Linked DNA regions of Homo sapiens: all the other regions are linked to region 1. Evidence: fine-mapped expression QTL. A gene starts in region 1. Each other region holds a variant in brackets. All regions are shown on one strand. Distances are between the middles of the regions. Region 1 holds the start of SORD (sorbitol dehydrogenase). Region 2 has its middle 33 kb from the start of TERB2. Region 3 has its middle 99 kb from the start of TRIM69. Region 4 overlaps DUOX2 (dual oxidase 2).

Region 1 (7,884 bases):
TTCTAGATACTTCAGGTTACAGCCACCCCAACCTAGCCCCTAATCCAGTCAGAGAGTGGGTTCTAATGCAAAGCTGATGAGATCAAGGTTAGTTCGCTGCTGCTCTAATCTTCAAAGCTTTGTCTACGGAACCATAGTAGAGGTAGTCTGCCTGAGCAGTGGAAGACCATGAGTTTGAGGTAAGATGAAGGAGAACTTAACTGTGTTTCTGCACCTTAGGTGCATGACTTTTAAGCAGGCTCTGAGCAGATAGAGGGCCAAGGGCCCCTCCCTGTGGCGTCTTTTCTCTCTGAGGCCTCCATCAAAGCCCTCGGGCTCTGTCATAATTGTTGACTTTATCTGTCTGCCTCCCTCAGTAAACTTGGGAGCAGGGGCTGTGTCCTCCTTTCTGGGCCCTCAGCCCAGTGCCTGGCACATGGCAGGCACCCTTTCATGAGTGAATGTTTGTGGAATGAAGTACTGAGTTGGAAATCACTCTGCAAGCTGGGTAGAGCTGGACCACTTTCCCTTACTCATAATACCATCTGGCATTTGCAACAGTAAACACTAACAGCCTCACTTTAATTCAGGACCTTGGGTGGAGGCTCCAAAGAGTGGAATGAGCACTAGAATGGGGAGTCTGAACATCTGAGTCCTTGTCGTGGCTCTGTTAACTAACAAAACCTATCACCTTGGGTATGGTACTTTCTTCAACTGAGGAGATGGAGAGTCAGCTGGGACAAGGGTTCTATAGAGGGGCTTAGAGCGGCTTAAAGGGAGTCCTTGAGCAGTCTGAAATTGTTGCCAAACTCAGTCTATTTGCATTCTGTGGAGGGGACACCACAGATTCTTAAATAGTCAAGAACTGCTAACCTGGATAAGCTTCTGAATTACTGCAGTTTACATACTGACGCATGTACTTTGAGGGAAAAGAGGTACAGGGGAGCAGCAGAGATGGCTGGCACTCATCCCACATACCCACTGCCATCCCAGGCCCATCTGAGAGGGACTTTGTCAAGGGAGGCTTGGCATGACTAGGCTGCTGACTCAGCCACTTCCTAAACTTTGGTGCCACAAGCCAGGGAGCAAAAGGCAGGGTCTAAGGCAGAGGACACACATACAGAATGCTCCTAAAGGGACAGAGGCACGGGATTGGAAAGAAAAACTGCTGGAAAGTGAACCAGACAGGGTCTTAGGGAGAGAAGGATCCTTACAGACAAGGGAGCTATCAAGATCCACAAGTCTGGCACAGGCAAGGGGAACAGCAGGGGTTCTGGAGATGGAGGCCTAGACTGGAAGGAAAGGAGAAGGAGCTGGCACTTCCTGAGCACGTACTAAGTGCTGAGTACTCTTGTGATCATCATAATCCTGCAAGGGAGGTTTATCAGTCCCAAGCAAGGGAGTTAAATACAAGTTCTGCTGTTTCTAAGTGTCCTCTGGCCCCCCTTTCTCTGCTCTGCACGGTCTGCCCCGATAATTCAGACAGCCTTAGCATTTCCTTTGGAAAGGTCAATGACAAGAGGCTGGACTATGAATCTGCAGCTGGCAAAGGAGAGAGAAAGCTTCATTCAAACAGTTTGCAACCGTCCTGGGCACCGGCCACGTGCCAGCCACGGGGCTAGGTTCCGGGAGGCACACGACTAGATCCCTGCCCTTCGCAACAGCCACTACCTGCTGCCCCCACACCCCGAGGGGAACCAGCTGGGATCTGGGCAGCCAGGGCGCTTAAGGTGCGGGGCCGGCGCCAGGCTGGAAGTGGGAAGCCAGGACTATGGCTGGGCTCAGAGGAGAGTGAGGCAGGATCGGTATGCTTCCCACCCTCCTTCCCAGCTTACCAGGCGCAAGTCCCCCGGTCCGTGCACCACCAGGGAAAGGTTGTTGGGCTTGGCCGCCGCCGCCATGGAGCTCTTTTGGCTCTGGAGTGCGGCCTGGAAGGCGCGGGACGTTTGGTCGCTCTGGTGGCGCTACCCAGCCGAGGGTCCAGGGCACTGGATGGAAGGTGGGGCCTGGGAGAAGCGCCGCACGCAGGGGCGGGACTAGGCTTCCTCCTTTGTGCCAGCCTGGGCGGCGCTAGCGTGGAGGGGCGGGGCTTCCCAGCCTCCTCCAGACCCGGAGGCGGGGCGGGGCTTCGGGAGGGGGCTGGGAGCGAGAAGCCCGGGTGCTGGCTCCATCTGCAGCGCGCTGTTTTTTTTGTTTGTTTGTTTGTTTGTCGCCGAGGCTGGAGTACAGTGGTGCGATCCCGGCTCACTGCAAGCTCTGCCTCCCGGGTTCAAGCCATTCTCCTGCCTCAGCCTCCCGAATAGCTGGGACTACAGGCGCCCACCACCACGTATTTTTGTTTAGTAGAGACGGGGTTTCACCGTGTTAGCCAGGATGGTCTCGATATCCTGACCTCGTGATCCACCCGCCTCCGCCTCCCAAAGTGCTGGGATTACAGGCGTGAGCCACCGCGCCGGCCCTGCAGCGCGCTGTTTTTGCCGCCTCACATGCAAGCACACACGGCTGCCTTGAAAACCGCCTGCAGAGGCAGTAGGCACCAGACCAGCGCTCTCAAACGTTAGCTGCAGAAGAATTGGGGTGGGGAATGTGAGGCGCTGTTGAGAATGCACATTCTCAGGACCAGCACAGAGATTCTGATACAGTAGGTCTAGGTCTGAGGTGCTGCCTGAGGGTCCATATTCCTAGCAACGAGAATGCTGAGGCTGTGGGTGGAGCACGGTGTGCACTTTGCGAGACAGGTGCTACCATGACGCAGCGTCCACGTCGGCCCTTTGTCTCCAGCCCCCAGGAAAGGGCCTGGCACGAGTAGGAGTAAATGAATTCGTGCATCATTACATGGGCCTGGTGCTTAAGTATAAAAAAGACATGAGGCCGGGCGCAGTGGCTCTTGCCTGTAATCCCAGCACTTTGGGAAGCCGAGGCAGGTGGATCACCTGAGGTCAGGAGTTCGAGACCAGCCTGACCAATATGGTGAAAACCCCGTCTCTACTAAAAATACAAAAATTAGCCGGGCATGGTGGCATGCGCCTTAATCTCAGCTACTCGGGAGGCTGAGACAGGAGAATAGCTTGAACCTGGGAAGCAGAGGTTGCAGTGAGCTGAGATCATGCCATTCAACACCAGCCTGGGCAACAAGAGTGAAAATCTGTCTTTAAAAAAAAAAAAGCCATGAAATGGAATTTGTGAACCTCTTTCTCTCAACTGGATCTGCTGCTTCTATTCAAAGCAGAGTTTCTGCCCAAACTCTTCCTTCAAGCCTCTCAGCCCTCTGAGAAACAGTGAGGTTTTACTCTCTGAGGAGAGAGGCGCTTCTAGATAGGCCTAAGTCTATAAGGCCCCTCCCTCCTTTGAGGATAATGCTCAGGATTTCATTCCCTTACAGTCCCCCCTCCCCAATATGTAACCGCCCAATGGATTCACCTTGCCTGCTGCCTAGACAAAACTAATTTATCAAGACAGGGGAACTGCAATAGGGAAAGAGTTCATGCAGAACCAGCTATGCAGGAGACTGGAATTTCATTATTGCTCAAATCCGGCTCCCCAAGCATTCGAGCATACGGGGACTCAGAGTTTTTAAGGATAGTTTGATGGGTGGGGAAAGGCCAGTGAGTCAGGAGTGCTGATTGTTTGGGTCAGAGATGAAATCATAGGGGATCTAAGCTGTCTTCTTGGACTGAGTCAGTTTCTGGGCGAGGGCCACAAGGTCAGATAAGTGAGTTTATCAATCTGGTTGGTGCTACGCCTTGAGGGACCGGTGCCAGTATAGGCTGTATTTGTTCCTTGCTGAGGGCCCTGGTTCCTCTGGCTAAGATTAGGCCTAGATATTTGACTTGTTGTAGGCAGAGCTGGGCTTTCAGTTTAGACACCTTGCCCGCTTGATTACCTAGAAAGTTCAAGAGATCTAGAGTAGCCTGCTGGCATGAGGCTTCCAAATTGGTAGCCAAAAGTAAATCATCCAGATTCCGTTCCAAGATGGCCAAATAGGAACAGCTCCGGTCTGCAGCTCCCAGTGTGATCGATGCAGAAGACGGTGATTTCTGCATTTCCAACTGAGGTACCTGGTTCATCTCATTGGGACTGGTTGGACAGTGGCTGCAGCCCATGGAGGGTGAGCCGAAGCAGGGAGGGGCATTGCCTCACCCGGGAAGCGCAAGCGGTTGGGGGATTTCCCTTTCCTAGCCAAGGAAAGCTGTGACAGACTGTACCTGGAAAATCAGGACACTCTCACCCAAATACTGCACTTTTCCAACGGTCTTAGCAAATGGCACACCAGGAGATTAAATCCTGTGCCTGGCTCAGTGGGTCCCACGCCCACAGAGCCTTGCTCACTACTAGCACAGCAGTCTGAGGCAGCAGCCTGGCAGGGGAGGGGCGTCCGCCATTGCTGAGGCTTGAGTAGGTAAACAAAGCAGCCGGGAAGGTTGAACTGGGCAGAGCCCACCGCAGCTCTGCAAGGTCTGCTGCCTCTGTAGACCTCACCTCTGGGGGCAGGGCATAGGTGAACAAAAGACAGCAGAAACTTCTGCAGACTTAAACGTCCCTGTCTGACAGCTCTGAAGAGAGCAGTGGCTCTCCCAGTACAGTGTTTGAGCTCTGAGAATGGACAGACTGCCTCCTCAAGTGGGTCCCTGGCCCCCATGTAGCCTAACTGGGAGACACTTCCCAGTAGGGGCCAACTGACACCTCATACAGGCGGGTGCCCCTGTGGGACGAAGCTTCCAGAGGAAGGATCAGGCAGCAACATTTGCTCTTCTGCAATATTTGCTGTTCTGCAGCCTCCACTGGTAATACTCAGGTAAACAGGGTTTGGAGTTGACCTCCCGCAAACTCCAACAGATCTGCAGCTGAGGGACCTGACTCTTAGAAGGAAAACTAGCAAATAGGAATAGCATCAACATCAACAAAAAGGACATCCACACCAAAACCCCATCTGTAGGTCACCAGCATCAAAGGTAGATAAAACCACGAAGATGGGGAGAAACCAGAGCAGAAAAACGGAAAATTCTAAAATCCAGAGTGCCTCTTCTCCTCCAAAAGATCACAGCTCCTCATCAGCAACGGACCAAAGGTGGACGGAGAATGACTTTGATGAGCTGAGAGAAGTAGGCTTCAGAAGGTTGGTAATAACATACTTCTCCCAGCTAAAGGAGGATGTTCAAACCCATCGCAAAGAAGCTAAAAACCTTGAAAAAAGATTAGACGAATGGCTAACTGGAATAAATAGTGTAGAGAAGACCTTAAATGACCTGATGGAGCTGAAAACCATGGCACAAGAACTATGTGATGCATGCACAAGCTTCAACAGCCAATTCATTCAAATGGAAGAAAGGATATCAGTGATTGAAGATCAAATTAATGAAATAAAGTGAGAGGAGAAGTTTAGAGAAAAAAGAGTAAAAAGAAATGAACAAAGCCTCCGAGAAATATGGGACTATGTGAAAAGACCAAATCTACATTTGATTGGTGTACCTGAAAGTGACAGGGAGAATGGAAACAAGTTGGAAAACACTCTTCAGGATATTATCCAGGAGAACTTCCACAACCTAGCAAGACAGGCCAACATTCAAATTAAGGAAATACAGAGAACACCACAAAGATACTCCTCAAGAAGAGCAACCCCGAGACACACAATTGCCAGATTCACCAAGGTTGAAATGAAGGAAAAAATGTTAAGCGCAGCCAGAGAGAAAGGTCGGATTACCCACAAAGGGAAGCCCCTCAGACTAGCACTGGATCTCTCAGCAGAAACTCTACAAGCCAGAAGAGAGTGGGGGCCAATATTCAACATTCTTCAAGAAAAGAATTTTCAACCCAGAATTTCATATTCAGCCAAACTAAGCATCATAAGTGAAGGAGAAATAAAATACTTTACAGACAAGCAAATGCTGAGAGGTTTTGTCACCACCAGGCCTCCCTTACAAGAGCTCCTGAAGGAAACACTAAACATGGAAAGCAACAACCAGTACCAGCCACTGCAAAAACATGCCAAATTTTAAAGACCATCAATGCTAGGAAGAAAATGCATTAAATAATGGGCAAAATAACCAGCTAACATCAAAATGACAGGATCAAATTCACACATAACAATGCATGATGGGTTCAAACATCCTTCTTTAGCTGGGAGAAGTATGTTATTACCAACCTTCTGAAGCCTACTATATTAACCTTAAATATAAACGGGCTAAATGCCCCAGTTAAAAGACATGGACTGGCAAATTAGGTAAAGATTCAAGACCCATCAGTGTGCTGTATTCAGGAGACCCATCTCACCTGCAGAGACTCACATCGGCTCAAAATAAAGGGATGGAAGAAGATCTAACAAGCAAATGGAAAGCCAAAAAAAAAAAAAAAAAAGCAGGGGTTTCAATCCTAGTCTCTGATAAAACAGACTTTGAACCAACAAAGATCAAGAGACAGAGAAGGCCATTACATAGTGGTAAAGGGATCAATTCAAAAAGAAGAGCTAACTATCCTAAATATTTATGCACCCAATACAGGAGCACCCAGATTCATAAAACAAGTCCTTAGAGACTTACAAAGAGACTTAGACTCCCACACCATGATAATGGGAGACTTTAACATCCAACTGTCAATATTAGACAGATCAACAAGACAGAATGTTAACAAGGATATCCAGGACTTGAACTCAGCTCTGCACCAGGCAGACCTAGTAGACATCTACAGAACTCTCCACCCCAAATCAACAGAATATACATTCTTCTAAGCACCACATAGCACTTATTCCAAAATTGACCACATAGTTGGAAGTAAAGCACTTCTCAGCAAATGTAAAAGAACAGAAATCACAACACACTGCCTCTGAGACCACAGCGCAATCAAATTAGAACTCAGGATTAAGAAACTCACTCAAAACCACAAAACTACATGAAAACTGTACTGTTCCTGAATGACTACTGGGTAAATAATGAAATGAAGGCAGAAATAAAGATGTTCCTTGAAACCAATGAGAACAAAGACACAAAGTACCAGAATCTCTGGGACACATTTAAAGCAGTGTGTAGAGGGAAATTTATAGCACTAAATGCCCAGAAGACAAAGTAGGAAAGATCTAAAATCAACACCCTAACATCACAATTAAAAGAACTAGAGAAGCAAGAGCAAACAAATTCAAAAGCTAACAGAAGGCAAGAAATAACTAAGATCAGAGCAGAACTGAAGGAGATAGAGACACAAAAAACCCTTCAAAATAATCAGTGAATTCAGGAGCTGGTTTTTTGAAAAGATCAACAAAATCGACAGACTGCTAGCAAGACTAATAAAGAAGAAATGAGAGAAGAATCAAATAGACACAATAAAAAATGATAAAGGGGATATCACCACCGATCCCACAGAAATACAAACTACCATCAGAGAATACTATAACCACCTCTATGGAAATAAACTAGAAAATCTAGAAGAAATGGATAAATTCCTCGACACATACACCCTCCCAGGACTAAAGCAGGAAGAAGTTGAATCTCTGAATAAACCAATAACAGGTTCTGAAATTGAGTCAATAATTAATAGACTATCAACCAAAAAAAGTCCAGGGCAAGACGGATTCACAGCCGAATTCTACCAGAGGTAGAAAGAGGAACTGGTACTATTCCTTCTGAAACTATTCCAAACAATAGAAAAAGAGGGACTCCTCCCTAAATGATTTTATGAGGTCAGCATCATCCTGATACCAAAGCCTGGCAGAGACACAACTAAAAAAGAGAATGTTAGACCAATATCCCTGATGAACATCGATGCAAAAATCCTCAATAAAATACTGGCAAACTGAATCCAGCAGCACATCAAAAAGCTTATCCACCATGATCAAGTGGGCTTCATCCCTGGGATGCAAGGCTGGTTCAACATATGCAAATCAATAAACGTAATCCATCACATAAACAGAACCAA
Region 2 (7,884 bases), 32 kb after region 1:
TCAAAAAACCAGCTCCTGGATTCATTGATTTTTTTGAAGGGTTTTTGTGTCTCTATCTCCTTCAGTTCTGCTCTGATCTTAGTTATTTCTTGCCTTCTGTTAGCTTTTGAATATGTTTACTCTTGCTTCTCTAGTTCTTTCCATTGTGATGATAGGGTATTGAATTTAGATCTTTCCTGCTTTCTGTTGTGGGCATTTCATGCTATAAATTTCCCTCACACACTGCTTTAAATGTATCCCAGAGATTCTGGTACATTGTGTCTTTGCTCTTATTGGTTTCAAAGAACATCTTTATTTCTACCTTCATTTCGTTATTTACCCAGTAATTCAGGAGCAGGTTGTTCAGTTTCCATGTAGTTTTCCAGTTTTGAGTGAGTTTCTTAATCCTGAGTTCTAATTTGTTTGCACTGTGGTCTGAGAGACAGTTTGTTGTGATTTCTGTTCTTTTACATTTGCTGAGGAGGGCTTTACTTCTAATTATGTGGTCAATTGTGGAATAAGTGTGATGTGATGGTGAGAAGAATGTATATTCTGTTGATTTGGGGTGGAGAGTTCTGTAGATGTCTATTAGGTCCGCTTGGTGCAGAGCTGAGTTCAAGTCCTGGATATCCTTGTTAGCCTTCTGTCTCGTTGATCTGTCTAACATTGACAGTGGGGTGTTAATGTCTCCCATTATTGTGTGGGAGTCTAAGTCTATTTGTAGGTCTCTAAGGACTTGCTTTATGAATCTGGGTGCTCCTGTATTGGGTGCATATATATTTAGGATAGTTAGCTCTTCTTTTTGAATTGATCCCTTTACCATTATGTAATGGCCTTCTTTGTCTCTTTTGATCTTTGTTGATTTAAAGTCTGTTTTATCAGAGACTAGGATTGCAACCCCTGCTTTTTTTTTTTTTTTTTTTTTTTGCTTTCCATTTACTTGGTAGATCTTCCTCCATCCCTTTATTTTGAGCTGATGTGCATTTCTGCATGTGAGATGGGTCTCCTGAATACAGCACACTGATGAGTCTTGACTCTTTATCCAATTTGTCAGTCTGTGTCTTTTAATTGGGTCATTTAGGCCATTTACATTTAAGGTTAATATTGTTATGTGTGAATTTGATCCTGTCATTATGATGTTAGCTGGTTATTTTGCCTGTTAATTGATGCAGTTTCTTCCTAGCATTGATGGTCTTTAAAATTTGGCATGTTTTTGCAGTGGCTGGTACTGGTTGTTGCTTTCCATGTTTACTATTTCCTTCAGGAGCTCTTATAAAGGGAGGCCTGGTGGTGACAAAACCTCTCAGCATTTATTTGTCTGTAAAGGATTTTATTTCTCCTTCACTTATGAAGCTTAGTTTGGCTGAATATGAAATTCTGGGTTGAAAATTCTTTTCTCGAAGAATGTTGAATATCGGCCCCCACTCTCTTCTGGCTTGTAGAGTTTCTGCCGAGAGATCTGCTGTTAGTCTGATGGGCTTCCCTTTGTGGGTAACCTGATCTTTCTCTCTGGCTGCCCTTAACATTTTTTCCTTCATTTCAACCTTGGTAAGTCTGACAATTGTGTGTCTTGGTGTTGCTCTCCTCAAGGAGTATCTTTGTGGCGTTCTCTGTATTTCCTTAATTTGAATGTTGGCCTACCTTGCTAGGTTGTGGAAGTTCTCCTGGATAATATTCTGAAGAGTATTTTCCAACTTGTTTCCATTCTCCCTATCACTTTCAGGTACACAAATCAAATGTAGATTTGGTCTTTTCACAAGTCCCATATTTCTTGGAGGCTTTGTTCATTTCTTTTCACTCTTTTTTCTCTTATCTTGTCTTCTCACTATATTTCATTAATTTGATCTTCAATCACTGATACCCTTTCTTCCACTTGATCGAATCAGCTATTGAATCTTGTGCATGTGTCATGCAGTTCTCGTGCTGTGGTTTTCAGCGCCATCAGGTCATTTAAGGTCTTCTCTACATATTTATTCTAGTTAGCCATTTATCTAACCTTTTTTCAAGGTTTTTAGCTTCCTCATGATGAGTTCAAACATCCTCCTTTAGCTTGGAGAAGTTTGTTATTATCGACCTTCTGAAGCCTACTTCTGTCAACTCGTCAAACTTATTTTCTGTCCAGTTTTGTTCCATTGCTGGCGAGGAGCTGCAATCCTTTGGAGGAGAAGAGGTGCTCTGATTTTTGGAATTTCCTGCTTTTCTGCTCTGGTTTCTCCCCATCAGGCAAGGCTAACATTGGGACAAACAAATGTTAAGGGGTACAAATAAATAATCTATAATGATAAAAAAATGCAGTTCACCAGTTACAATGTTATAAATACCTAAGCACCAAATAACTTAGCACCTCCATGAATATTAATTAAAACATAAAATCACAGGATATACAAGAAAAAATGGAAACATTGTAGTAGACGCCGAAATGACAGAGAAGGATTAAATAGCATAATTAATAACAGATAAAACTTGGTACTCAAAAAAGAGAATACACCTTTTTTTTAAAGTATCTGTGGATAATTCACAAAAATTGACCATGTATTAGGCCAAAATGAAAATATTTGTGAGATATAAACTATAGAAATAGTACAGATAACATTGTCTATATAGAAGGCATTAAAAAAGAAGAGAAGAACCAGGTGCAGTAGCTCATGCCTATAATCCCAGCAGTTTGAGAGGCCAAGGCTGGTAGATCCCTTGAGCCAAGGAGTTTGAGACCAGCCTGCGCAACAAGGTGCAACCCTGTCACTGCCAAAAAAAAAAAGAGAGAGAAGAGAACACTTTATAACTTGTTTTATGAGGCCAGCATAACCTTGATATCCAAAACAGACAAGGACATTACAAGAAAGGAAAATTACAGGATGATCTCTCTCATCAACATACATGTGAAAATTCTGAACAAAATATTAGCAAATCTAATTGTATTAATACATTCAAAGCATGTATAGTTTTTTGTTTTTTTGTTTGTTTGTTTGTTTTTGAGATGGAGTTTTGCTCTTGTTGCCCAGGCTGAATTGCAATAGCACGATCTTGGCTCATCCCAAGCTCTGCCTCCCAGGTTGAAGCTATTCTCCTGCCTCAGCCTCCCGAGTAGCTGGGATTACACGCATGTGCCATCATGCCTAGCTAATTTTTTGTATTTTTTAGTAGAGACAGGATTTCTCCATGTCGGTCAGGCTGGTCTTGAACTCCCGACCTCAGGTGATATGCCCGGCCTCCCAAAGTGCTGGGATTACAGGTATGAGCCACCACACCTCGCCAAGCATGTATAGTTTTTAAAAGCTCAACAACATGATCTGATGTGCAGTCAGGTTTGATCCACTGTTGTACATGATATAAGATGTCATCATCACAGACCATAATAGTAAATTCCCAATTGAATTGCCAATTTAGAAGCTTGACTTTTCCCGGTCACTTCAGCATTATGTAGGAAAAGACTGAACTTTAAAACCAGAGTGATCAGAGATGGAATCACAATTCTTTTTTGTTGTTGTTGTTGTTTTTTGACAGAGTCTCGCTCTGTCGCCCAGGCTGGAGTGCAGTGGCACAATCTCAGCTCACGGCACGCTCCATTGCTTGGGTTCACGCCATTCTCCTGCCTCAGCCTCCTGAGTAGCTGGGAGT[G/A]CAGGCGCCTGCCACCACACCTGGCTAATTTTTTTTTTTGTATTTTTAGTAAAGATGGGGTTTCACCGTGTTAGCCAGGATGGTCTCGATCTCCTGACCTCGTGATCTGCCTGCCTCAGCCTCCCAAAGTGCTGGGATTACAGGCGTGAGCCACCGCGCCCGCCTGGAATCACAATTCTTAGAATTTACTAGCTACGTGATTTTGGACAAGTTACCAAACCTGTTAGTGTCCATTTTTTTCAGACGTAAAATAAGAATAACACTAACTCTCTGTAATGTTCAATTGTGGAATTAAGGAGACAGTATTTATACAGGCAATATGTTGGGATGACACCCCAAAGTATCCCTAAAACTTAGAATATAAATCAATGGGACCCAAATAAAAAGGATGAGGTTAGACACCAGTAGAAATGACACAGCCAAAGAGATTATTGGATTATTTGTGGGTGTGTAATAGTCTCACCAACACCCAGATCAAATTTAAGTGGCCTGGGTATACTGTCATCTTTGGAAAATAGGAACTGGACTGCACCGGATTAGGTTAAGTCTCAACCTAATCGGTTGCATAATAACATAGGACGAAAACAATGTGCCAATCCCCACAGTAGGAACACCCTAATAACAGACATGGAGGCATCAGGCCAGTGAAGCAGGGTGGCATCAGCCATTAGAACCATGGAGCCTCCCGTACCCCACCCCTGGGGTTTCCTGCTCACTGGGCCACCTTCTGGTGACATTTTTACAGATGTGCCTATGGAAAGGGGATGACATGATGAGCCAACAAGCACATCCATCAAATCCCCTAGAGCGGTATCAATGGAAATCTAAAAGCCCTAGAAATGGGACCTTGGCCACCTCACTGCCCTTAGTGCCTGGGTGATGCTGGAGAGGATATTTTTAAGCCTCCATCTTTTTCTCCCATCCCAGTCTAGTCAGTTTATATGGCAATGAGGTGAGGAAAGGAAGCTTTGGTGATTCAGGTTTCTGGGGTGGCCACTGCATGCTTCATCATGACAAGACTGTGATGGTGACTTCTCAGACTTAGCAAATACTAGCACTTATCCCTTCTGAAGTAAAGCAGGTCCATTATGAGATGGTTTTTAATATGGCCACTTCTGGTATCTTTCATTTTTCAGAGAACATCTTGTATAACTCAAACTCCTTCTCCTCTCCTTCCTTAGTGCTGTGCCCTTGTTTGCTTCTTTCATCTCCCAGAATGCAGTCTGAACTTCAGTCACTTCCACGGCCCCCCTTTTCCTCCACACTACGCTTTTTCCCATGATCATTCTGAATACTTGTCACTGACCCTGTGGAGATCTCTTTCTCCACAGTTCATTTCCCAGTTTCACTTTCTCCTACTCAATGATGTCCCTCTCCTACCCATTCCCAGGATATGCTGAGTTTAACCACAGTCCATCATGCCAGAAAGACTAGTATGTGACGCATGGACAAAATGCTGTTTATTTTTCATGGGACAAAATGTAATGTTTTCCTGAAGGGTTATTGTTGTAATCTCTACCTGTACCAGACAACAGACAGGCTGACCTTTAGAAGGTAAAACTAAACTTCTTCCTTTTCAACTCACCCCTGTCACCATTTCAACTTCTAGGGGTTGGCAAATAAGGAGGTAGAGCTTGTTCTGTTTGATCAGTATTCTTTGCACTTAATGATCCTTATGTGCTCCAGCTTTGGCAGTTAAATCAACAATATTAATTTTGTTTTCAGTATGTGCAGAGCACCAAACCACAAGAGAAAGTGCATGACAGACAGACTCCTTGTCCTGAAAGAGATGACACTCTATGGGGAAAGACCACCCCTACTCCAAGAACACATACAACCACTCAAATGATTCAAATGGAAAAGTAGGGTGAGCGTCATCCTTACCACAAGTGCAGTCATAGGTGTGCTCCCCAAATCAGCCTGTATGGAGGCTAAGAGCATGGGCTCTGACACTTGCCATCTGATTTTAGGCAACTGCTTAAGCTCTCTAAGCCTCTTTCTTCTCTGTAAGATGGGATACCCATAGTCTCTGCTTCATAGTGTTGTAGTGAGGATTAATTAGCACATAAAAAGTGCTTAGCACAGTAATAATAATAGCTAGTTTCTTAAGCATTTGCTTTATACAACTGTGGCAGCTAAATAATGGCCATGAAAGATATCTAGGTGCTAATCCCTGGAATCTGTGAATGTTACCTTAATGGAAAAAGGGTCTTTGCAGATGTTATTAAGTATCTTGAGATGGGGAAATTTTCTTGGGTTACCTGGGTGGACCCTAAATGTAATCACAAGTGTCCTTATAAGAGGGAGATAGAGGGAGTAAAATCTAGGAAGGGTTTTACTGAGGAAGGCAGCAATGTGATGATGGAAACCAGATGTTATGCTGCTGGCCCTTGAGATGGAGGAAGGTGCCACCTTCATCCTAACCTAATATAAAAATCCAGATTTACAAAACAAGTCAGTGAAAAGATAATTATTTTTTCCTTGTTGCAACTTCTTTCACTCTGGACCCTGGGTTATGGGGTTATGGGATTGGTGAGGAGTGGTTTGGGAGAAAGCTGTGGCTTGAGGCTCTTCAGGTCTCTCCCTGGCCTAGAATAAAGTGGGTCAGGAAGGTTCTGCACATGTGAGTACAGGTGTGTGGTGAAGCCTAGTGAGGATGGTAGATTGGTAAGTATGATCCCTGGATACACCTCCCCATCATCAATGAGGAGATGGGAAGAGGTGAGAGTTGGATGAACCAATACAAGGGAGTCCTTTAGAATAGTGCCTGGCTGTATTCATTTCCTATGGCTGCTGTTATAAATTACCACAGACTTGGTGGCTAAAAACAGTACACATTCATTCTCTCACAGTTCTGGAGGTCAGAAGTCTGAAATCAGTGTCACTGAGCCAAAATCCAAGTGTCTGCAAAGTTGAGCTCCCTCCAGAGGCTCTAGGGGAGAATCTGTTTATTTCTCTTTTCCAGCATCTAGAGCTGCATTCTTGGGGACCTTCCTCCATCTTGAAAGCTGGCAGCATAGCATCTTGTTTCAGTCGTCACCTTGCCGCCTTTTTCTGTATATAAGAAGTCACCTAGGCAAGCAGTATGCTAAATGATTAATGATCAAAAGCTTAGTTGCTCTTATGAAAGACTCTACCAGACTGGCTCCTTATCATTGCCATTCAGAAGCTATTTGTGTCTTCAAGGAAGCCACTTTAAAGAAACACAAAAAACAAACCAACACCCTGTCACATATGTTCTTGTGGCCTGAGTCACAGGGAAACACAGAACGGAGAGAACCAAGTTTCCTATCTGTGACCTGACTCCACCATAGCCTAGACCCAAGTGACGCCTATAGCACTTCCAAAGTCCCTGGGAGTTTGGATCCAGGTCAGGACTGGTAAATACCAGTGGGACTGGGTCCCGGCTCAGTATCAAGATCTATCTGTTTCCCCCAAGGGTTTTCCAAATTTCCTAGGGTACCTGAGCCTGGGGAACAGCCTTTAGAACAGCACTGTCCAATAGAAATACAGTGGTCTCTTGGGATATGCAGAGGATTGGTTTCAGGACACCTCCAACACAGCTACCAAAATCCACGATGCTCAAGTCCCTTATATCAAATGGTGTAGTTTGTGCTTATAACCTACACACATCCTACTGTGTATTTTAAATCATCTCTAGATTACTTGTAATACCTAAGACAATGTAATTCTATGTAAATAGTTGTTATACTATATTTTTAAAATTTATTTTTATTGTTGTATTGTTATTTTTTTCCAGGTATATTTGATCCACAGTTGGTTCAATCCACAGAAGCAGTACCCACAGATATGAAGGGCCAACTGTATAATGTGGGCCATGTACAGTTTTATTTATTTATATTTTTAGAGACAGAGTCTCACTCTGTCACCCAAGCTGGAGTGCAGTGGCACAATCATAGCTCATTGCAACTTTGAACCCATGGGCTCAAGTGATCCTCTTGCCTCAGCCTCCCGTGCAGCTGGGACTACAAGGATGCATCACCATGCTCAACTAATTATTTTTTTTCTAGAGACGAGGGTCTACACCCTATATTGCCCAGGGTGTACCTAACTTTAAATGGTCAAGTAGCCACATTAAAAAAGTAAAAAAAAAAAAAAAAAAAAAAAAAAAAAAGGTGAAATTAATTTCAACAATATATTTTATTTAAACCAATATATCCTAAATATGATTTTAACATCTAATCAACATGAAAATTATTCTGTTTTTGGCTGGGCACGGTGGCTCACACCTGTAATCCCAGCACTTTGGGAGGCCGAGGCTGGCAG
Region 3 (7,884 bases), 190 kb after region 1:
ATGCCTGCAAACTCCATGTATTAGCTACCCCTTTTCCAGCAGTGTGAGATGGGAACTATACTTGGCTTGCCTTAGCTGGGAAGTGGCTGTGGAGATAGAGGGTGGCTTGGCTTGTTGCAGGAGCTGGAAAAAGGGCAGGCCACACTGGGCTGTGGAGGAGGGGGCTGGTCCTTTTCCCCCAGAGTGACTCTGTGCTTCATCCCGAGTTTCCTCACTTGCCTAAGACACCCTGGGTCCCCAGGGAGGAGGGTGGCTCGTTAAGCTAGATTCTCTCATCTGGCATCTGCCCATGAGCATGCAAGCCTTCATAACATCTCTGCTTCTGCTGTTTTCAAAGGTTGGAAAACAAAGAACCGGACCAAAGAGGAGGCAGACTCTGCTCCCACCCTCGGACATGGTGCCATCTTTGTTTTCCTCTCCAGGTGATCGTGTTGCCATCGAATCTGGTGCTCCCCGAGAAAATGATGAATTCTGCAAGATGGGCCGATACAATCTGTCACCTTCCATCTTCTTCTGTGCCACACCCCCTGATGATGGGAACCTCTGCCAGTTCTATAAGCACAATGCAGCCTTTTGTTACAAGTTAGTGTCCACAGTCCCACTGGGTCACCTGGGACCTCTTTCCCTTCATTAACTTGGTGCTGTTTCCTGTGGTTATTTCTTTATTCTTTCAGCTCCTAATTCCAAACATGAGGCATCGCCTGGGCAGGCTACTCTTCTTGGTGGCATTGAGAGAGGGTAGCCTCCCTAGGAATAAGACTGACTCACAGTGGTTGGTTTTAGTCTTTCAGTTCCAGTTTCCCTTACTTAGAGCAACAATAGAAAATTATTGCTGAAATCACTCACCCTCTGCAGACATCCTGGAGGGAATTCCTGTGGTTCATCCTCTGTTATTAGTTTCCACTGCAACCACCAGAAAGGAAACCTGTAACAACAATGACCTCGACAATAGCAACAACACACCATGACAGCAACGGCTGACATTTCCTGAGGTGTGGTGTGCTGCCAGGGCTTGAGTTCTGGGATCCTGGATCTACTCCCTCCTGGCAAGTGAATTTGGAGAAATGATTTAACTTTTCTCTGCTTCAGTTTCATTTAATCGCCAAAATATTAAATAAGGTGATGCATGGAGAGTCATAATTATTATTACTATGTGCCTGCCCTTGTGCTAATAAGTGGTTTGCATGCTTCAATTTATTTAATCTCCACAAGAATAATGCTGAGGTGGGCACCATTTTTGGGTTAACCAAGGCAGAAGGAAGCTCATTGACTTGGGCACAGAGCACAACCAAGAGTCAAACTGGGGTCTCTGTGAGTCTCAAGCTCCTGCCCTGTGCCCACTCCCCTACCCTACTCCAATTCTCACCCCTGAAATTGTGAAGTTGAGTCTGGAGGAAGCAAAGTGCCTCCCTTTCTGCGTGGCCCCCCATGGCCCCAGCCGTGGAGCTCTAGGGTGCCGAAGTGCCGCTTTCCCCCTGACCCAACCCAGATGCATTCTTCCCCCACCGCAGCCTGGCCTCAGTGGTGGTTTTCAGCCAGGATGGGGCTTGTCCGATGGAGGCCAGGTGCCAGTCACAGGAGCAGTCTGACAGATCTGAGTTTTTCTAGGGCCCACTGGGAGCCTTGAGAGGAGTCACAGGCCAGAGACCTTGTGATGGGTTTAAGTCAACACCTGAACCTGCTCTAGAAGTAAGCAGGTTACATGTGCAGAGTACACCTTTCAGCAAGTGGTTCCTGAATGGGCCCATCTTTCTGGGGCCCTTTCCAAGTCAAGACACCAAACGAAAGTTTCATGGAAGGCAGAAGAGCATAGTGGTGAAGCCCACTGGTCTCTGCCAATTACAACTGTGTGACCTTGGGCAAGTCACTTAAATTTTGTAACCTCAATATCCTCGCCTGTAAAATAGAAATAGTAATGGTACCTCCCTCACAGAATTACTGATGAGATCCAATGAGAAAAGCATATCAAGTCTCCAGCATGAGGTCTGGCACATAGTAGGTGCTCAGTAAATGGTACCAAGCTATGCCATAGTCATGGCCTAGTGGTCTGGGCATGGAGGTGCAGGAGTAGGCCTGAAAGAGAGCCTTGTGCTGGTGGTTTATAGGGAATGATGGGGCTCTGGCTGGCAGTGGCAGTGGCAGTGGGGGTGCTGAGGAAGGTCTCTGGGGAGTCCTACAGCCCTGCCTTTCTTCTCCTCCCAGGGGGCTTTCTGCCTGTGTCCCCAGTTCTTCCCTAGACCCAAGCCCTCCTCTCTGATGTCTTTTTAGGATTCCCATACTACCACAGCCTCTTTATTTTTGTATCTATTTTCTTTCTATTTTCCTGCTTCCTCCTTGGCTTCTTGATCATCCGTTACCCAATTTGGACTGTTCCCTGAACCCCATTGTAAAAACTACCAAGTTGCCTCATCACTCTCTGGTGTTTATAAAGCATGAAAGGTTGGGGCTGGGAAGAAACTTGGAGTCTTCTCATCCTCGTTCTCCATCAACCCCCACTGGACAAGATTGGGGAGGGTGGAGTCAGTGGTTTTCCCAAGGTCAGTGGCAGCGGGGCTGGCCTCCAGGACTCCTTGTGCATGCTTCTGCCTCCACACCAGGTGGCTTTCCAACACAGTTGGCTGTGTTGGGTGCAGGCGGATGAGGCAGCATCTGCTTAATCAGTAGAGTATTCTTCCTGATAACAATCTTCCCTCATCACCTTCCCCAATCCCATCTCTCCTTGATGTAGTTTCCACGCAAGCCACCCTCTGCATAGAGCCCTTATGAGTTCCTCAGGAGGCCCAGATGTGGAAGGGCAGGCATGTCTAGGAACCTGTGGAGTCCCTAAGAGAGTTTAGGCATCTTCACAATTTCATTTTCACCTTTTTCCTATTATATAGAAGGGATACTTCTAGGGGGAGTAGAAGGAGTGTGACCGCAGTCAGAGCAGGAGAGTGGATTGGAGTAGGGGAAGTGATGGGAAAGAAGCCGAGGGGAAGGGATAAGGGGGTGGTGGGTGGCAGCTGGGCCTCCATTGGCCTGGTGAGTAGTTCTGTCAAGGATCAGGGACAGTGACAGGAGGACTCCGAGTTATTCTGTTGAAGATTGGAGACAGTGTTGAAAGGATCATGGGGATGAGCACATGGTTTGGCTGTCACATTTATTTCTTTTTGGAACTTGAGGGTTTTCCTGTTCCTGTGTGTGGAGATTTGGGGTGCTGGGTAAATCCTGGGCAGTGAGGAACTAGCAGAAATTAGATATTAATATTAGCTACACAGCTGCTCATACCAGGATGGAGCTGATATGGGACAGGCAGAGGATGTGGAATCAGGACACCTTTGTTAAGTCTGGCCTTCATTCCCTAGCTTCATAACCTTGGCA[A/G]TTCTCTTAATGTCATGTCAGTGAGTTTCCGTTTACTCTTCTGTAAAATAAATGTTTTTTAAAAAAAGCCTGCCCTACCTGCCTAACATGGTTTTCATGAGGATTAAATGAGATAACGGATGAGCATGCTTCCTAATCTGTAAAGCTTTATGCAGATATTTGCTGTCGTCATCAGCTGTATTATTGATAGGGTTAAGATGCCAGTGGAAGTGAAAACCTAGAACCCAGAGTGAAGGTGACACAGCATTTAATCTGCTATGTGGAACAGGTCCTTTCATCTTAACTGGTCCTGGGTCAGCGGGGCAGCTGCTGTCCTCAGATGTGGTTCTTCTGGAATGTATAATATGGGAGGCGACTATCAGAGTGATGCCCATTGCTAAATCACTGTTCTGCAAAACTGGTGATAGTCAGGATTGTTTGCTAAAGTGAAACTAAAAAGGCTGTAAGTTTGGGAAGCAGATGAGATGCTGGAAGGTGGCCATATTAACTCCTTGTTAAATAAACTTTTCGGCCGGGCATGGTGGCTCACACCTATAATCCCAGCACTTTGGGAGGCTGAGGCGGGCGGATCACAAGGTCAGGAGGTCGAGACCATCCTGGATAACACGGTGAAACCCCGTCTCTACTAGAAAATATAAAAAATTAGCCCGGCATGGTGGCGGGCGCCTGTAGTCCCAGCTGCTCAGGAGGCTGAGGTGAGAGAATGGCGTGAACCTGGGAGACAGAGCTTGCAGTGAGCCGAGATTGCGCCACTACACTCCAGCCTGGGAGATAGAGTGAGACTCCATCTCAAAAATAAATAAATAAATAAATAAGTAAATAAATAAACAAACTTTTCATTTATTAATGATAACCACCATACCGTACCTTGGATAGCACATTAAAGAAAACATAATGTGTTCATTTCACTGAATTGATTTACCCAAAGAAAACCATGTTGCCTTCTTCAGATGGGGACATTGTGGCATGGGTTCTGTGATGAGAACATATCTGGCTTCTAATTTGAACGCTTTTGGCTCCTCACTAGCTTTGGACCGCTGGGGCAAGTCATTTAACCCACCACGCCTGTTTCCTCATCTGTAAAATGGGAATGATAGTACCTACCACAGAACTATTCCAGGGATTTACGTGAGTTAATGTATATAAATTGCTTAGCACATTGCTCTGCACATAAATAAATGCTCAATAAATGTTAGCTATTGTTGTTATTACAGTGACGTTGGGCATATATAATACTATTGTTAGCATTGTAGTTAACTCAGAGGATCTCTGTGTGTCAATTGACTCCTCAGGCTTCCTGACAATGTCACCTTTGAGGAAGGCGCCCTGATTGATCCACTTTCTGTGGGGATCCATGCCTGCAGGAGAGGCGGAGTTACCCTGGGACACAAGGTCCTTGTGTGTGGAGCTGGTAAGAAACAGAAGCCACCCTGTTGCGGGTTCATTGACTGGGAATTCAGGGAACCCTCTGCCCATCTCATTCCCCCTCCAAGGCTTGAGATTTGTTCTAGAATCCTTCTGGGTAAAGGAGGATTGCAGTGTCCCATTCCCTCAGTGACTAGCACTTTGCTAAACAAATGAGTATCTGTGGACATGATATTAACTAGGGTTATATGTCCTAGGCAACATAGCCCTTTCATTCATTTAAAGAATGAATTGGCTGGGCACGGTGGCTCCTGCCTATAATCCCAGCACTTTGGGAGACCAAAGCCGGTGGATCACTTGAACCCAGGAGTTCGAGACCAGTCTGGGTAACATGGTGAAACCCCATCTCTACAAAAAAATACAAAAATTAGCCGGTGTGGTAGTGTGTGCCTATAGTCCCAGCTACTCAGAAGGCTGAGGTGGGAGGGTCACTTGAGCCTGGGAGGTCAAGAGTGCAGTGAGCCATGATTGTGCCACTGAACTCCAGTCTGGGTGGCAGAACAAGACCCTGTCTCAAAAAAAACAAGACCCCATCTCAAAACAAACAAACAAAAAGAATGAATCTGTGCCAGGCACAGTGTCTCATGCCTATAATCCCAGCACTCGGGAAGGCTGAGGCGGGTGGATCACTTGAGGCCGAAAGTTCAAGACCAGCCTGGCCAACATGATGAAACCTCATCTTTACTAAAAATACAAAAATTAGCTGGGTGTGGTGGTGCGCCCCCTGTAGTCCCACTTACATGGAAGGACGAGACAGGAGAATCACTTGAACCTGGGAAGCAGAGGTTGCAGTGAGCAAAGATCATGCCACTGCGCTCCAGCCTGGGCGACAGAGCGAGATTCTGTCTCAAAAAAAAAAAAAAAAAAAAAAAAAAAGGGAATTAATCTGGCGATTATTTTTGAACCCTTGATGGGAAACTAGGAAAATTTTTTTATTTGCGTGATCTTGGCTCACTGCAACCTCCACCTTAGAGAAATATTTTTGATAGTAAAGGGAAGGGCAACTCTTGGAACTTTCAAATTATACCAGCAAAGTGATGGCCTAGTCCCATCTATGAATAAGGTAGACCCTGCTCCCAGCCAGTGGGAGGAGTGAGCAGTGGTCTGCTCCCACACCACTGTGAGCCAGCAGTCTGCCTGCAGTAGGGTTGTAGCTAGCTGCCTTCTCTCATCCCCTGTTTCCAGCCATCTTTCCAGCCATCTGGAACAAGCCCTAGCAGCCTCAGAACGAATCATTCTGGTGACCCAGACAGTACGCTCACACTCCTTGTGGGTGTGATCTGGTGTTCCTCATACTTGTTTGTGATTTTCTTTGGCTGGCCAAATAAGTGATCACACGGCTTCCTAAGAGGGGTGATGGATGTAGAATAGACTTGCCACAATGGGCTAGCAGACTGCGGGACTCAGGTGACAGATTCTTATAAAAATCTGCATGGATCCAGTACCTTTTTACCATAGAAAAGGAAAATAAGTCACACATACCACACACATGCATGCCTTGCCCCCAACACACACACACACAGAAATTCACCTGTAATCCCATTACCGATTAGCCCAAGAGAACCACTATTAATATTTGGGTATAGAATCTTTTAGTTAGTTGGTTTTTTCTGAGACCATGCTAAATACGCTTCCTTTACCTACTCTTTTTTAAAAATCAGGCTGGGCACAGTGGCTCATGCCTGTAATCCTAGCACTTTGGGAGGCTGAGGCAGGCAGATCACCTGAGGTCAGGAATTTGAGATCAGCCTGGCCAACATGGTGAAACCCTGTCTCTACTAAAAAAACAAAAAGTAGCCAGGCTTGGTGGCGGGCGCCTGTAATCTCCACTACTTAGGAGGCTGAGGTGAGAGAATTGCTTGAACCCGGGAGGCGAAGGTTGCAGTGAGCTGAGATTGCAACACTACACTCCAGCCTGGGTGACAGAGCAAGACTCTGTCTCCAAAAAAAAAAAAAAATCAATATACTGTGAACATTTTTCCATGTCAATAGATAAAGAGTTATGGCGTAATTTTTAGTAGCCATGTAGTTTTTTAATCATGCTTTGTTGGACATTTCAGGTATTATTTTTCAGTGTTTTGTTTTCTGAGGGAGCTCACAAAATTGTTCTTAGGGGATGTGTACAAAAAGTAAACCCCCAAAGATATTCTGCATTGCTTTCATTCTGTGGGTCTGATTTTTATATTAAAACCATAGTGTCACATAGCATGCAGATACTATGGGGAAGCAGGTGTCTCAGGCAAATCCTTGGATACCTGAGTATCCTGGGGCTATCTGGGCACCTGGGCCAACCCAGGGAGCCAGCTCACTTAAGAACCCTCTCCAGGTGGTCCTCAGAGGGCACCTAAAAGGAATATGTCTCTCTCTGGGGGAGGTGTGATGGGTTCTCACGAAGGTAGGGGCAAAGAAAGAACAGGAAAACAAGTCCAGACCTTCTGAGATTTCTTATTTTCTGAGTAAGTTTGTGTTTCCTTGAATCCCGTGGTTCTTTGAGATTATCTCCACTAGTGCCCAGGAGTAAGTGGGAAAATTTTAGCTCTGAGGTTTGAGAGGATTAAATAGAACCCAGCACTAGGAGCGTATTTTATGTAGAGAATAATTCTTCATGGATTCATTCTCTTCTGCATTCAACAAACAGCCGCTAAGGTCTTATCATGCCAGGCACTGGGATAGATGCTAGAGACACACAAAAGATATGGTTCCTGTCCGTGGCCTGGACAAGTGGGAGAGCAGATGTTTAATATTTCACAATCTTATATCTTTTGCTTTGTTTAGGGGCAATCGGGGTAGTCACTTTGCTCGTGGCCAAGGCAATGGGAGCAGCTCAAGTAGTGGTGACTGGTAAGACTTTGTTCTTTATCAATCTCCTTGACTGGGAAACAGCTGGTCCTACTGTATGTGCATGTGTGAGGAGAGGTTATCCGTGACAGTGTGGAGGGGGTGAGTGTGTAGTGTCATATGGATTGTGGAGATATAGAGGAGTGTGAGTGTGTGTTTTGTGTTAGGAGAAGCTATGAGAGAGAGAGAGTTTGTGTGAGAGTGTGTGTGTGTGTGTGTGTGTGTAGCTGTATGGTGGATATGGGGGTATATGAGGGTGTA
Region 4 (6,530 bases), 69 kb before region 1:
CTTGTGACAAGTGTGGAGGTGAAAAGGTACAATAGTGCTTGTCTCCGATAGCTCCCCACATCTCTAATTGACTTCCACAAAATCGATGCGTTGCTTTGGTATTTGCTTGGACTGACATTTGAGGGAGGAGGAGGCTGGGATCCTCTGGCTGAGAATCTCCTCAGAGCCCAGTGCAGAAGCTGTGATGCTTAGAACCTGGACAGCCCGACTGCCTCAACTCTGTCTCCAGGTCTATTCCCTCCAGCTCCAAAAGGAGCAGCCCTACTTCTACCCCTTCCCGTCCCCAAAGTGTCAGCAACTTTGAGGAGGGCACCAGGAAACAAAGATGCCTCCCCAGCCCTGATATTCTTGATGTCACCAGTGATACCCACTGCCCTGACCCCTGGGCAGGCCCCTCTCTGCATCTACTGGAGTGGTCCCTGGGCTCTGGGGCTGAAGGATTCCAGCCTCTCTGCCAGATATTCAGTACTCGATCTCAATTCCCCTCTTCCACAAGAGTTGGGTGACCAGCTGTCCTAGTTTGCCCAGGACTCTCCCTGTTTTAGCACTGAAAGTCTCTTGCCCCAGGAAACCCCATCAGTCCCAGGCAGATTGGGACAGCTGGTCACCTTACGCAAGAGCCAGGCTGAAACATCCCCTCCATACTCAGCTCTTTAACTTTTCTTTTCCTTTTTCATCGGGCTCTTTCCTAAAAAGCTGAGCTGTAAAATATTTTACATCGAGGTATAATAAATAATCATGTACATGTTTTACCACCACCCAGGTCAAGACATAGAATGTTTCAACATTTCCATCACCCCAGAAACTCCCCTTGTACCCCCTTCCACTTCGTCTCCCCTAGCTCCTAGAAGCAACCACTGATGTGATTTCTACCAAATCCAGTTTTGGTCCTACTAAATATACTCTTTTGAGACTGGCCTCTTTTACTCACCATAATGCCTTTGTAATTCATCCATGCTGTTGTGTGTATCAGCAGTTTGTTCCTTTTCATTGCTGAGTAGTATTCTATTGTAGAGATGTACCACAGTTTGTTTATTCTTCTGTTGATGGACGTTTGGGTTGTTTCTAATTTTGAATGATTATAAATAAAAATTCTGTGAGTGTTCTTGTACCTATGTTTTGGTGGCCATCATGCACTCATTTCTCTTGAGTATGTATCTATGAGTGGAATTGCTGGGTCATACAGTTATCCAGCCAGTAGGACCTGTGGAGGGAGAGTTTCAGACCAGGTTTGTCTTCTCACTGGCCCCACCCTACCTCTTCAGCCAGGCCAAATGCCTCTGGTTCCCAACCCCCTCTGTTGAAGGTATCTCTCTGACAAGGCTGGAAGAGCACCAATCAGAAGTCAAGAGACCTGGATTCTAGTGCCCACTTTATCTGCAAATAGCTATGGAGGGAAATCCCTTAACTCCTCTGGGCCTCTTCCTCATTTATTCAAATGTCTGTGAGAGTATTGGGAAGTCAAATAACAATATTGGCCCAGACAATTACACAGATGAGAAAAGGCAGGAGACTGTGTTCCATAGTTGCGGTGCGTGATGATTATGAGTTCACCTATTTATCAACAGCATCATTCCTGCAGTCCTCCAGCCTTCCTGCCCTTAGTAAGTGCACAACCAGTCAGTAATCCCAAACTCCAGCCCCTTCAGTCTCAGCCTTAGCTTTACTCCCAAATCTGACCCTGCAGTTCCTCCCTATGCCTTTCTAAAAACTGTGCAAAGTATTTATTCATTCCATCCTAATTCACCCATCCTTGCTAGACTGGAGAATGGCATTAACATGGCTATCAAGATTATCCATAAAACTCTCTGCTTAGCCCTGACTTCCCTGCCATGCTGGGGCCTAAGTGAGGATCTCCCAAAGACTTTGTCATCACTGAAGATGTATCCCCAGCCAACTCTTGCCCAAACACCGGGCAATGCCAAGTGTATGTCCAGCTGGATAGAGGGACATGCTGCCATTATCTTGAGTCACTTCAGATGGCACTCAGCCTGCCTGGCCTCAGTCCTGACTCCACACGCCAGTCAGGCTGTAGATGTCAGCCCTAAGCATGTATTCATGTGATCTGGCTGCTCTGTCTAACCCTGCACAGAGTCCCAGAAAGCCACTGAATGACAGGGATAAAAGTCAAGGACTTGCAGAGAGGTTAAAAGTGTCTTCAGCCTCAACACTTGCCTAGATACTAACCTGGTCCTACCCTTCCTGGGGCTTTATGACCAACTCTTTGAGAAGTGGGCTAGAAGGCAGGATCAGGCAGCTATTGGGTGATACCTTGGGTTCAGAAAGCGAGGTCATTGCATAAGTGTGTGTCGGGGAGGGATTAGACTGAAAAATGTGCAAACGAGGGAGGCTACAAAAATGTCCCAGAGAAAGATGGAAGATGACTCAGAGGGAATTCGTGGAAATGATCACATAAACCGTGTAAAGGAAAGCAAATCTTCCCCGCTCTGGGTTACAGAGATGTTTGTCTCAGGCTTTGGGACAAAGCCCAACCCAAACCCTGCCTCCCAGGAATAGGGATGAGGATGAGAATGAAACAGGGATGGACAAGGAATCGGGTGGGATTGGATGGTAATGGGACTGTGGATGGAGAAGAGGAAGACAAGCATGAGATTGGATGGAAGGGCTTTGGGGCCAGGGGGAAAAGGAGTGGATGAGGACAGGAGGGGCTGAAGCTGAGCTCTGTAGGAGAGGAATGAAGGCTGGATCTTTGCCCCTTTTTCCAACTTTCCAGCCCCAACTTCTGCCTCAAGTGAAAGAGGAGAACATTGCTAAGATGTGGCATAATTCCTGTCTACTTACTAAGAATTTTCATTTTGTTTGGTTTTGTTTATACATGTATACACATACTGTATTTACGTACACATTATGACTGAATCATAGTTCATATACTGTCCTGACATTAACTTTTTTGCTTAGAAATAGGTCTAAATATATTTTCTTTTTTTGAAGGGGAGAGTATCCATCACCTCAAACATTCATCCTTTGTGTTACAAACAATCCAATTATACTTTTTAAGTTATTTTTAAACGTACAATTAAATTATTTTTTACTATAGTCTCTCTGCTGTGGTAGCAAATACTATGTCTTATTCATTCTTTCATTTTTGTACCCATGAACAACCCCCACTTCTCCCAACACCCTCAACTCTGGTAACCATTGTTCTATTCTCTATCTCTATGAGTCCAGTTGTTTTGATTTTTAGATCCCACAAATAAGTGAGAACACGCAACGTTTGGCTTTCTGTGCTTGGCTTATTTCACTGAACACAGTACTCTCCAGGTCCATCCATATTGTTGCAAATGACAGGATCTCATTCTTTTTTATGACTTAATAGCTCTCCACTGTGATATGTACCATTTTTTCTTTATCCACTCATCTGTTTATGGACATTTAGCTTGCTTCCAAATCTTGGCTATTGTGAACAGTGCTGCAATAAACATGGGAGTGCAGATATCTCCTTATTTATTAAGAATTTTTGAGTAAGAGGAGTCAATCCAGCATAGTACTTAAGAGTGAGGGCTCTTAAGTCAAATTGGGTTTGAGTCCTAGCTGGGTGACCTTGAGAAAACAAAGAAAACTCTCAGGGCCTCAGTTTGCTCCTTCATAAAATGGGGATAACATGATTACCTGCTCCATAGGGTTTGGGAAGATCTAATAATATAATTCAATTCAACAAATATGTGTTGAGCATCTATTATGTCCCGGGCACAGGCACAGCTTCTAGGGAACTTAAATGTTAGTGGAAGGAAACAGACAATGAACAAGATAGAAGGAAGAGGAAGAGAAGAAGGAGGTCACAGATCACAAGTGCTTTGAAGATAATAAAACTATGAAATGATAGTGACTGACTAAGGGGAACTCTTTAGATAGGATGATTAAAGAAAGCCCTCTAAGATGACGACAACAAAACTATGATGATTAATGCATACAGAGCTTGCTGTGTGCCCAGTGCTATCATAAG[G/T]ACTTGAAATGCATTAACTCACTTAATCCTTAGAACAGCCACAATCCCCATTTTACAGATAAGGGACACTGAAGCACGAAGAGGCTTAAACAACTTGCTCAAAGTTATCTAGAATGTAAGTGAGAAGACAGACTAGGTTTTTCTTTTTATAGAGACAGGGTCTCGCTCTGCCACCTAGGCTGGAGCGCAGTGGTATGATCATAGCTCACTGTAACCTTGAACTTCTGAGCTCCAGCAATCCTCCTGCGTCAGTCTCCCCAGTAGCTGGGACTACAGGCATGCACTACCATACCTAGTTAATTTTAAAGTTTTTTGTAGAGACATGTTGCCCAGACTCGTCTCGAACTGCTGGGCTCAAGCAGATCTTCCCACTTTGGGAGGAGACTAGATTTGAACCCAGAAAGTTTAACCAGATATCATGCCCTTAACTACCACTTTATCCTGTCACTCAAAAGCAGGCTGCAAGCGTTCAGGTGAAGCTAATGTATGGAGAGCCCTTAATTGTGCCTGGCACCTAGTAATATTGTTACGAGCATCACCTATTAGTAAGAGAAGCCGAAGCTCTGACAGCAGAGCTCCATAGTCTGAGGAGTTTGCGGTTTGTGGGGCCTGAGTAATGGTGAGTGACTTGTTTCTAATCCAGATTTATCCCCTATCTCATCATCCCTCCTTCTCATTTCCCCAGCTTCCCGCTCACTTTCTTGTGTCCCACCAGGTTCTGGCTCTGTGAAGCCAGGAGGAGGCCTGCTCTAACCTCCAGGGACACACTACCCAGCCACCCTGATCATGTGAAAGTCAATCCATCCTGACCTTGCATGGAGTGGAAAATTACTAAGTGACCACCTCCCTGTCTTGTCTCCAGGGAGCTGTAAATTTCCTGGGAAGTCTCTCCCTGATTTCACAGGAACCCTTATCTTCCCTGGCCAGTGACCTCAGATGAGCTGTAACATGAAGGCTCTAGCTTTTCTGAGAGTGAGAGGCTGGCAGTGAGAATTTAGGAAAGGCTGCCCAAAATGCACTGGATGCTGGAATCAGGGGACCTGAGTTTTGTTTCCAGCATTACTGCTCAAATCACCAAGTAACCTGAGGGAAGTCACCTGAGTTTTATGGGCTTCTATTTGTCTTACCAAGAAAATAAAAGAATTAGGCTGGCCGGGCACGGTGGCTCACGTCTGTAATCCCAGCACTTTGGGAGGCCAAGGCAGGTGGATCACTTGAGGCCAGGAGTTCGAGATCAGCCTGGTCAACATGGGGAAACCCATGTTTCCCCATGGGGAAAATACAAAAATGCTAAAAATACAAAAATACAAAAATTAGCCAGATGTGGTGGCGGGTGCCTGTAATCCCAGCTACTCAGGTGGTGGAGGCACAAGAATCTCTTGAACCTGGGAGGTAGAGGTTGCAGTGAGCTGAGATTGCCACTGCACTCCAGCCTGAGTGACAGAGTGAGAACCTGTCTCACAAAAAAAAAAAAAAAAAGGATTAGGCTAAGACCCCTTCTAGACCTGCAACTTCACTCTTCCCTTCTGCACTCGGTGTCTCAAATGGATAGAAGAAAACAGTTTCCTTGGCCTCTCAACCAAGGTTAAATAGTCTGGGGAAAGGGAACTAATATTTACAGGTTTACTTTGTGTTGGGTCCTGTAACACATTTACATAAATTGCCTCACTTAATCCTCACAATAACTCTCTGGAGAAGGTATTACTGCCTCCATTGTATAGACGAGGCATGTGGGACTCAGAGTACATCACCCACGGGCATCCAGCTAGTAACAGGCAAAGTGAGGGTTTGAATCCTATGATATCTCAGAGTCTCTGCTCTTTGCATCCTGATGCCTCTAAAGGTATAAGCAATCAAGGTTTTTCATAATATATTTTCCATTGTTAATTGTTCTGATGGTATTCATTGAACAACTGCTGTGAACACAGATCATACTAGATCCCACAGGGTCCAAAAGAAAAGCAAGACATACTTCCTGCCCTCCAGGAGCCAAAAACCAATCCAGCTCTAGGGAGAAAGTACAGTAACTCATCACACCAGCAAGCACAATGCTTGCTCAATGTTCCTCTTTCCTTCTCTGCTATAAGCCCCCTAGAGGGCAGGACCTATGCCTATAGTTCACTGTCATTTTTCCCCTGCCTAGTAAAGTGCCAGACAGAGAGCACATTCTCATGGGATATTTCGTGAATACATTACACTATGTGATAAGCAACTGATTAAATGCTAAGATGAGTGGATTCAGAAAGGGAATTCAGAAAAGGTCCTTGCAAGAGGGGGATTTTGAGCTTAACCTTGAAGGATAAAGAAGGTCCATGTACACATTCATCACTGGGCTGGAGTACTCACCCTGCTGACTGGACTACGTTCCTCTTCCACAGCCAGACCCTAAAGATGGCATCTTTTGAAGGAAAGAGCATCTTTGGATTCCTCTTACCTTTGGATCTGCCAACACCCAGTGTGATATGGAAACAACACCCACTGTCGTTCTGGAAAACAAGAGCCGCACCTCATCAGGACTCAGAAGAGGCTGACATCTTTGGAAGGCATAAGCTTTGGGGAATGTGCT

The links. PIP is the estimated chance that this variant, and not a neighbour inherited with it, causes the effect.
Region 2: its variant is fine-mapped to the expression of SORD in whole blood (TOPMed, PIP above 0.99).
Region 3: its variant is fine-mapped to the expression of SORD in lung (TOPMed, PIP 0.99).
Region 4: its variant is fine-mapped to the expression of SORD in monocytes after interferon gamma (Fairfax 2014, PIP 0.95). The same link has a PIP of 0.9 or more in monocytes after LPS.

What each region holds. Positions count from the first base shown.
Region 1 is chr15:45,017,280-45,025,163 of GRCh38, reverse strand. SORD (sorbitol dehydrogenase) reads right to left here and starts at 1,969. Exons shown (of 9, transcript NM_003104.6): 1 at 1,815-1,969. The coding sequence starts at 1,880. RefSeq lists an enhancer at 600-1,250 and a silencer at 2,020-2,189.
Region 2 is chr15:44,985,460-44,993,343 of GRCh38, reverse strand. No RefSeq gene overlaps it. Among named protein-coding and RNA genes, the nearest start is that of TERB2, 33 kb to the right of the region's middle. The variant G/A (reference allele first, on the strand shown) is at 3,598.
Region 3 is chr15:44,832,069-44,839,952 of GRCh38, reverse strand. It overlaps the pseudogene SORD2P. Among named protein-coding and RNA genes, the nearest start is that of TRIM69, 99 kb to the right of the region's middle. The variant A/G (reference allele first, on the strand shown) is at 3,361.
Region 4 is chr15:45,087,235-45,093,764 of GRCh38, reverse strand. It overlaps DUOX2 (dual oxidase 2), which reads left to right. Exons shown (of 34, transcript NM_001363711.2): 34 at 1-1,115. Among named protein-coding and RNA genes, the nearest start is that of DUOX2, 24 kb to the left of the region's middle. The variant G/T (reference allele first, on the strand shown) is at 3,965.